Homo sapiens: one gene and its partner. The protein of the gene in region 1 purifies or fractionates together with the protein of each later gene. This does not show direct contact. Each region holds a gene or a part of one and is shown on either strand. Other genes may lie near its edges.

The links. Proteins that work in one complex are often made in the same cells at the same time.
Region 2: the proteins of SSUH2 (region 1) and PITPNA purify together in Homo sapiens (affinity purification with mass spectrometry; one large-scale study listed by BioGRID and IntAct). This does not show direct contact.

Annotation. Positions count from the first base shown.
Region 1 is NC_000003.12:8,641,820-8,646,231, forward strand, and holds the start of SSUH2 (protein SSUH2 homolog), read right to left. Parts: upstream 2,980-4,412; 5' UTR 2,940-2,979; coding exon 2,912-2,939; intron 1-2,911. UniProt on the Homo sapiens protein: Plays a role in odontogenesis.
Region 2 is NC_000017.11:1,535,293-1,538,792, forward strand, and holds part of PITPNA (phosphatidylinositol transfer protein alpha isoform), read right to left. Parts: intron 227-3,500; coding exon 149-226; intron 1-148. UniProt on the Homo sapiens protein: Catalyzes the transfer of phosphatidylinositol (PI) and phosphatidylcholine (PC) between membranes. Shows a preference for PI and PC containing shorter saturated or monosaturated acyl chains at the sn-1 and sn-2 positions.

The DNA of each region.
Region 1 (4,412 bases):
CTGAAAGCTAGTATCAATTTTCCATCCCTAGTCGTGGAGGGCAGGGGCATTCTATGAACAAGACTTCTGGGAGCAGAGCTGGCCTGGGTACCAAGGGAGAGTCCCAGCTGCTCAGCACTGGGTCAGGGGTGGTGATGGCGATGTGGCCCCAGACCAGGGCTCTCACTCGTGATCTCAATCCTGCCCCTGTGGACGGGGGTCCACAGGAACTCATGCCCAGGAGTAAAAAGGTACAACCCATGTCTTATAGTCCTAGACCAGAAAAGCTGCCTCCTAAAATTACCAGAGACTGTATTTATAGCCCATCTTACTTGAAGAGGCTTTTGCTCACCATTTCTGGAAAAGGTTTCAGTCTGCAATCAAAGAAGTAAGTTCTATCACAAAAGATATGGTATATAGAATAAGGGAGGGGATTTTTTTCTCTTCCGCTCTGTGCTAGGACACTGCACTTTAAGAAAAGAGTGATTACCTCTAGGATTGTTGAAGAAACAGGATCTGGTTAGGCTAGAAAAGAAAAGACTTACAGGGCTCTTATCTTAAACAGGGAACAGACATTCTGAGTAGACTTGCAGCCTGGAATCAAGACCAAAGAGTAGAAGCTCCAGGGAGAGAGATAGCGATTCAATGTAAGAAAGAATTTTGGACAGTCTCGACTATAGAAATAGAACCAGACCATCACTGGAAGTGGTCCAGCCAAAGTAGGAGATGCTGCCCTGGTCAGGGATGCTGTAGACAGCCAGCACCTGAAGGTGATGGTCAAAGGCCTCCTTGAGGAGATTTGCACATGGGTGCCACATCCCAGAACGTTCCTATCCATGCACTTTTGTCCCAAAACGTATCACTGGAGAAAGGTTTTCTCCCCCTGAAGTCACTCATATTATAGACCTGAAAAGTGATGGGACAACACTATAGTGCCTGGAACATTAACTCGATTGGATAAAATGGGCAATCACCTCTCCCCTAAACAGGCACATTTAAATTATGTAAGGCCTGTAGCAGGCTCCCTTTCTGACACTTGGGGAAAAAAAAATCTACCTGGTTTCTGATTTCATTAACTTTTTCTAAAAGTTTCCCTGGGTGCCTCTATACCTTGCAGTGAACCCCAAGTGCTCACCTGAGTTCCATCACATCTGAGACCAGCACTCAGGACAACCCTATGAAAGACTCAGGGTTCCTAGACTTGTAATGGGCCCAAAGACTTCACTTTTCTCTCACCTTGCTCACCAAAAGGCATGAGGTCAAAACAGGAACTTCACAGAAGATAATATTTCCCATTAATAGCAGTTTACTTTTAAAGTTCTGGGGACCTGATCATTTCGTAGAGTCAATATTGACTCCATGTCTACTCTGGGCTGGTGATGTATTAGGCACTTTGTAGCCAACGAATCTTTGATCAATCCTGCAAGATGACACCATCCCTTTAAAAAAAATTATGGGAAATGAAATTCAGAGAGGTTAAGTGACTTGAGCAAAGTCACCCAGAAACTAGGAGGCAGAGCATAGGTTTGAGTCCAGATCTGACCTAGTCCATTGCTACTATGAGAAACTCTAATCATAAATGGAAAGACTGCTAATAAACAGTGTTTTGAAGAAAAAAGATTGCATTAGAATGTTATTTGAAGCTTATTAGAACAAGAGTATGGATATACAATTTCCAATATATTAGAGGTCAGATTAAGCCCTCCTCCAATACATGCTAAAATATCTCCAGGCAGTCTTTCACTTCAATATGAAAAAAGATTCCAACAAAATTTAAATTGAGCTCTCTAAGTTTAGTATAGGTTAATTTCATATTCTGCTTCAGGTCTAAAACTTAAAGCTTTAAGATATCAACATTAAAGACAAGAAAGAGTGTTATGCCTGCAAAGAAGCTCCAGTGTCATCAAGTCTGGTGACTATGAAGTTGTGTTAGTGTCATGGATCTCTCTGGATTCAAATGAAAGCTATAGACCTCTCTCTACATCTCCCAAAAAGCATGCTCAAAAAGCATTTTGCCCACACCCTCATGGTCCTCAGATTGAGACCTAAACCAATCTCGTTTTATAGATGAGAATATTGCAGCTCAGAGAGGTTAAGTGATTTGCCCAAGATCACACAGCCAATTCAGAGCAGAGCCAGGACTTGAACCCTGGCCTCCCACTTCTCAGTCTCATGCTCTTCCCCTCCCCACTCCCCGCCACCGGCAACCACCACCCCTCTGCACTGCCTGTTTCAAATTCGGATTCAAAAATTTCCCTTTTTAAAACATAGCACATTTCTTCCTGAAATACCATTTCCTTCATGTTTTTAAATAGCTCTGAGAATCCATTGTATTTCTGTCCCGGTAGTGACAGGATGGGGTCACCTGGGCTATGTTTCATAAGCGATAATGAACGAACTGGCCGTTTGCTAGAGAAAGATCACGAGTGAAGCCTTTTCCCGACCTTTCTGTAGAGTTAACATCATCTAAGAACTGAATCCAATTGTGATTGAAATAAGAATCCTGAAAATCTCACTTAGATTTGGCTGGGAGCAGGAGACACTGTCAACTAGAGAAAAGAAGAAAAAGGGAAAAGAATATAAGGTTTGCATGGTGTCACTGTGATAGAGAGAAAAGTTCTCAATTTCATCTTTCACCTTCCTTCTCCATTGTCCAAAGGCTCATAACGGAAGAAGAGATCGCAAGCTACAGGTAGGCTTTACACACGAGAGGAAGGAAGGAAGGAAGGGGTGCTCTCGGCAATCCAGATGCAGACCCAGGACTGCATTTAGGGCAGATGGAAGAGTTCACACAGTGCTAGCTACAGAGCTTATTAGAAAAGACTATGGATACATAACTTCCAACATATTAGAGGTCAGATTAGGTCCTCTTCAAATGCAGGCTAAAATATCTCCACACAGTCTTCCGTGCCATCTTTGAGGCTCTACTTACTGTCATCTTCATTCAGATCCCTGTCCATGTTCCAGACGTCCTGCCAAAGAGATGTCTGCCCTTCGAGTGTGCTTGGACCGATGTGCTCTGATGGACCACCCTCAGGCCCCTCCCAGAACAGCAGGCCCATTGTTACCCAGTTGGAATACAACAAAGGGAAACATCTATATCGTTCATCATAGCAGCTGCTCTGCACCCAATCCACCGGGTTCTGGGAGCTCCTCTTCCACAAGAGCCTTCTACTGACCAAGCTCTTATGGATGCTTCTAGTTACTCATGTCCTCACTGCACCCCTTTGAGAGGGGCACTGGTATCATGCCCATTTTTCTGAGCAGGATGATAGATTCAAACCCTCATCAGTCTGACTCTCTAGTCAGAGTGCCTGACAACTGAGCTACATCGCCCAGCTGTAGGAGGCAGACTCCTAAGTATTGTAGGGCGCATGCAGAAAAAGGTCATAACCACAAGAAGGTTACCTCCCCAAGGGGGATATTATATACAGATACTCAGCCTGGGCAGGGCCTCTGAGATCTTGAGCATCACCAGCCTCATCTCCCTGGGGAAGAAACAAAGCTGGGATTGTGAGGCCACACTGCAAAGCCACACGGCACCTCATGGGCAGAGCTGGCTCCCAACCCAGCCATGTGGGCCACTACTGTCGCCACACCAGCCTCGCCCACTGTGAAACATCTTTGGATTTGTAAAAGGTCTTTTCCTAAACCTTTTCCATTGGAGTTTGACACCCCTTCAACCTCAGCCCTTGGAAGATCATCCTCCTCTGCATGAGTCTAAACACAGAACTTGTGAGCTGGTCCCCGAGGCTCTATGGGTCCCACCCCCTCCACTGCATCCTTGGCAATCACTCCTCTGCAGCTGAACCTGGGGTTCTCTGGCCAGGGTGATGAAACTGCCCTACGCCTTGACTTCCCCATCCCAGCAATGCACGTGGGATGTGCCATGATATTCCTCAATGACAACCTGGGATTGCCTTCACCAGGGGAAGCATCAGGACTATTTTGTCAGTGTCCTAAATGTCGGCCTGTCTGGGATGGCCACACTGCACAGAGATGGCTCCCAGCTGCTCCATAAAGAGCGTGTCTTTATTCTCTCTACTGCCTTCACCCTCGTCACTGACTGCCCATCGCCGACAGCATGCAAGTGCAACCTTCAGCAGTATTCACAATTTCACAAATGCTTCTTAGGTGACTCAGTCCTCACAAATCGATTTTTATGGCTGGTAGGAGCACTGGATTTCTGATACTTGAGAGTCATATAAGTTTCATTACTGTGTATACACAAGGAAGACCATGATCCTGAGGAACAAATGTGGTCTTTTGATGCCTTTATACATGAAGCAATGATTTTAAGCCCTTATAGAATTGTCCCCATGGTAAATGGGGTTATCATGAATTTGTATGCCTTTCTCTGCGTGTATATTTTACCCTAAACATCTGTGTGAGCATCCATTGCTGTATCTGTTTAGGTGTGTGTTTGCATGTGT
Region 2 (3,500 bases), on another chromosome or scaffold:
CTGCATTAGAAACATACCCATGGGTACGCAAGTAACAACGGGCAGACCTCAGGCCGTCCCCAGCTCACCCCAGCCATGCCCCTCCTCCACAGGGAGCGGCCCACCCACATGCTGCCCAGCCCCCTGGCAGTGAAGGTGTGAATGGTACCTTCCAATTGGGGCCCAAGGGTCCTCGGCCTGTTTTGATAGATTTAAATTTTGCTGGGTCTTCCTCTGCCTTGTAATCCTGAGAGAAATTGTGGAATTGGGGTTGGAGGGGAGTGGGAGAGGGAGTGAGAGATGGGGAGAACAGATCTTTCATTAGCATTCACTCCATACCAGATCTTGATGCTGATGGCACAAAGCAAATATGGGAAAATGTTATAAACAAGATGTAGAACTGTTTACATTAGCCTCAGAGGAGAGTTCTATGTGATTTTCTCCGATAGGGTTTGTTTTCCATTTTGCCAGTGTGAAAGTATCACCAGACTGTCTGAGCAGGCACATATTTACCGTGTTGAAGACAGAGACTTTCAACCTGGGGTGAGCATCCAGATCACCAGGGAAGACCTTTTTAAAACACAGATTTTTGAGTCACTCCAACTAAAACCCAGTGACTGAGAATATCTGCAGGTGACGGCAGCACAGATTTGTTTTTTGTTTTTTTAAATCTCTGCAAGTGACTCTAAAATACAGCCAGCGCTCAGAATACCCGGCTGTCATTCCTTAAATCTTCCAGTGCAATCTCCCTCTGGCTTGTTTTAACAAAATCATTACTGGAAATGTTCAGTGTATGGAACCTATCCACTACTGGTGAGTCTCACTTCACAGATTTATAATGCAGTCAATTTCCTGTGTTAATTAACCACAACAAAAGTTTAATTTTCAGCTGTCCCTCTACATTGACTAATGTGGGCTCAGGAGATACAAACTTATAGCATCTACTTAACAAAAATAACAAAGATAATAAATTTCTCTCTCTCATAAAGTATTTCCCAAAGCTGAGAAGTTTTTTTTTTTTTTCTTTTTTTTTTGAGAGGGAGTCTCGCTCTGTTGGCCAGGCTGGAGTGCAGTAGCGCGATCTCGGCTCACTGCAAGCTCCATCTCCCAAGTTCACGCCATTCTCCTGCCTCAGCCTCCCCAGCAACTGGGACGACAGGTGCCCGCCACCATGCCCGGCTAATTTTTTTTGTATTTTTAGTAGAGACGGGGTTTCACCGTGTTAGCCAGGATGGTCTCGATCTCCTGACCTCGTGATCCGCCCACCTTGGCCTCCCACAGTGCTGGGATTACAGGCGTGAGCCACCGCGCCCTGCCTTATTTTTTTATTTTATTTTTTTGAGACAGCATCTCACTCTGTTGGCCAGGCTGGAGTGCAGTGGCACGATCTCAGCTCACTGCAACTTCCACCTCCTGGGTTCAAGCGATTCTCCTGCCTCAGCCTCCTGAGTAGCTGGCATTACAGGCGCCTGCGACCACGCCAGGGTAATTTTTGTATTTTTGTAGAGACGGGGTTTCACCATGTTGGCCAGGCTGGTCTCAAGCTCCTGACCTCAGGTGATCCACATGCCTCAGCCTCCCAAAGTGCTGGGATTACAGGCATGAGTCACTATGTCCGGCCGATTTTTTTTTTTTTTTTTTTTTTCAGATAGAGTTTCGCTCTGTCGCCCAGGATGAAGTGCAGTGGCACAATCTCAGCTCAATGGAACCTCCGCCTCCTGAGTTCCAGTGATCCTCCTGCCTCAGCCTCCCAAGTAGCTGGAATTATAGGCATGCGCCACCACGCCCAGCTAATTTTGTATTTTTTTTTTTTGACACAGTTTCACTCTTTTTGCCCAGGCTGGTGCAAAGGCATGATCTCGGCTCACTGCAACCTCCGCCTCCTGGGTTCAAGCGATTCTCCTGCCTCAGTCTCCTAAGTAGCTGGGATTACAGGCACCTGCCACCACGCCTGGCTAATCTGTTGTATTTTTAGTAGAGACAGGGTTTCACCATGTTGGCCAGGATGGTCTCGATCTCTTGACCTCGTGATCTGCCCACCTTGGCGTCCCAAAGTGCCGGGATTACAGGTGTGAGCCACCGCACCTGGCCCTAATTTTGTATTTTTAGTAGAGACGGGGTTTCACCATGTTGGCCAAGCTGGTCTCAAACTCCTGACCTCAAGTGATATGCCTGCCTCGGTCTCCCAAAGTGCTGGGATTACAGGCGTGAGCCAATGTGCCCAGCCTCTGAGGAGATTATATTTATGTGTGCTTTAAAAAATAAATATTCACCATCACTGCTTCCCTCCACTCACACAGATCAACCAGAGTTGACAAAATACTCAAAGAATCATACTTTTTGCTAGTATCCAGTTTGAGAAAATTCATCAAGCTGCATACTTATATTCACTTTGCTGTATATGTTAAACTTCCATAAAAAGCTTTTTGAAAAATCCACCAACGTTTTGAAGGTGGGGGTTGGGATATTGGGCAAGGAAGCACAAGATGGTTTTTATATCTTTTCGGAAATGCACAAATCAAAATAACTTTGTGTGTGTGTGTGTGTGAGATGGAGTCTCGCTGTGTCGCCCAGGCTGGAGTGCGATGGTGTGATCTCTGCTCACTGCAACCTCTGCCTCCCGGGTTCAAGCGATTCTCTTGCCTCAGCCTCCCAAGTAGCTGGGATTACAGGCACGTACCACCAGGCCTGGCTAATTTTTGTATTTTTAGTAGAGATGGGGTTTCACCATGTTGGGCAGGATGGTCTCGAACTCAGGACCTCAGATGATCGGTCACCTTGGCCTCCCAAAGTGTTGGAACTACAGGCGTGAGCCACCGTGCCAGGCCCCAAAATATCTTAAGTGCAGAGTGACCACAGGAAAGAGGTATCACACCCCTGGGATACAAAGAGCAAACACACATTCCCTATCAGTGGGCAGAGAGTTACATTCCTGTCTTTTAATCCCAATGAGGCCTCTGCCTAGTAAGAATGGTAATGAATGAGGAGGAATCTAACCCCCTCATTCCCTGAGCAAATACTTCTTGGGTGCAAAACAGTGAGCAAGCCAGACCTGGTCCCTCTTTTGACCAAGGTCATGGTCCACCAGTGGACTGTCCTTTTCCAGGGGTCTGCTCCAGTGTGTGTTACTCTGAAAAGGCGCCACCGACTTCTGGAGGGCAGGGGACCTGTCTTTCCCTGCATTCTGCATCCCTCACCTGGAACCCAGAGATCCTGACAATATTCCACAACCCAGTAGGCAGGAAGTAAATGTTTTTTTAATTACTGAGTTGGAAAAATAAATTTGAGAAGTGGTGCTCCGATTTTTCAGGCTAAGCATCATTTTAGCAGGGCAAAATACTCTAGCTACAATACCTACTTAGTCCAGTAATAATTTTCAGAGGCCAAACAGGGCACACAAATTTGGGCCACTAATTTTCTGGTGGCATCCCCAACTCAAGACAAGAAATCTCCTAATACTCACTTTTAAAAATAAAACAAGCAAGACACATCAGAATTTCCTTTTGTGCCAAGTTGGGTAT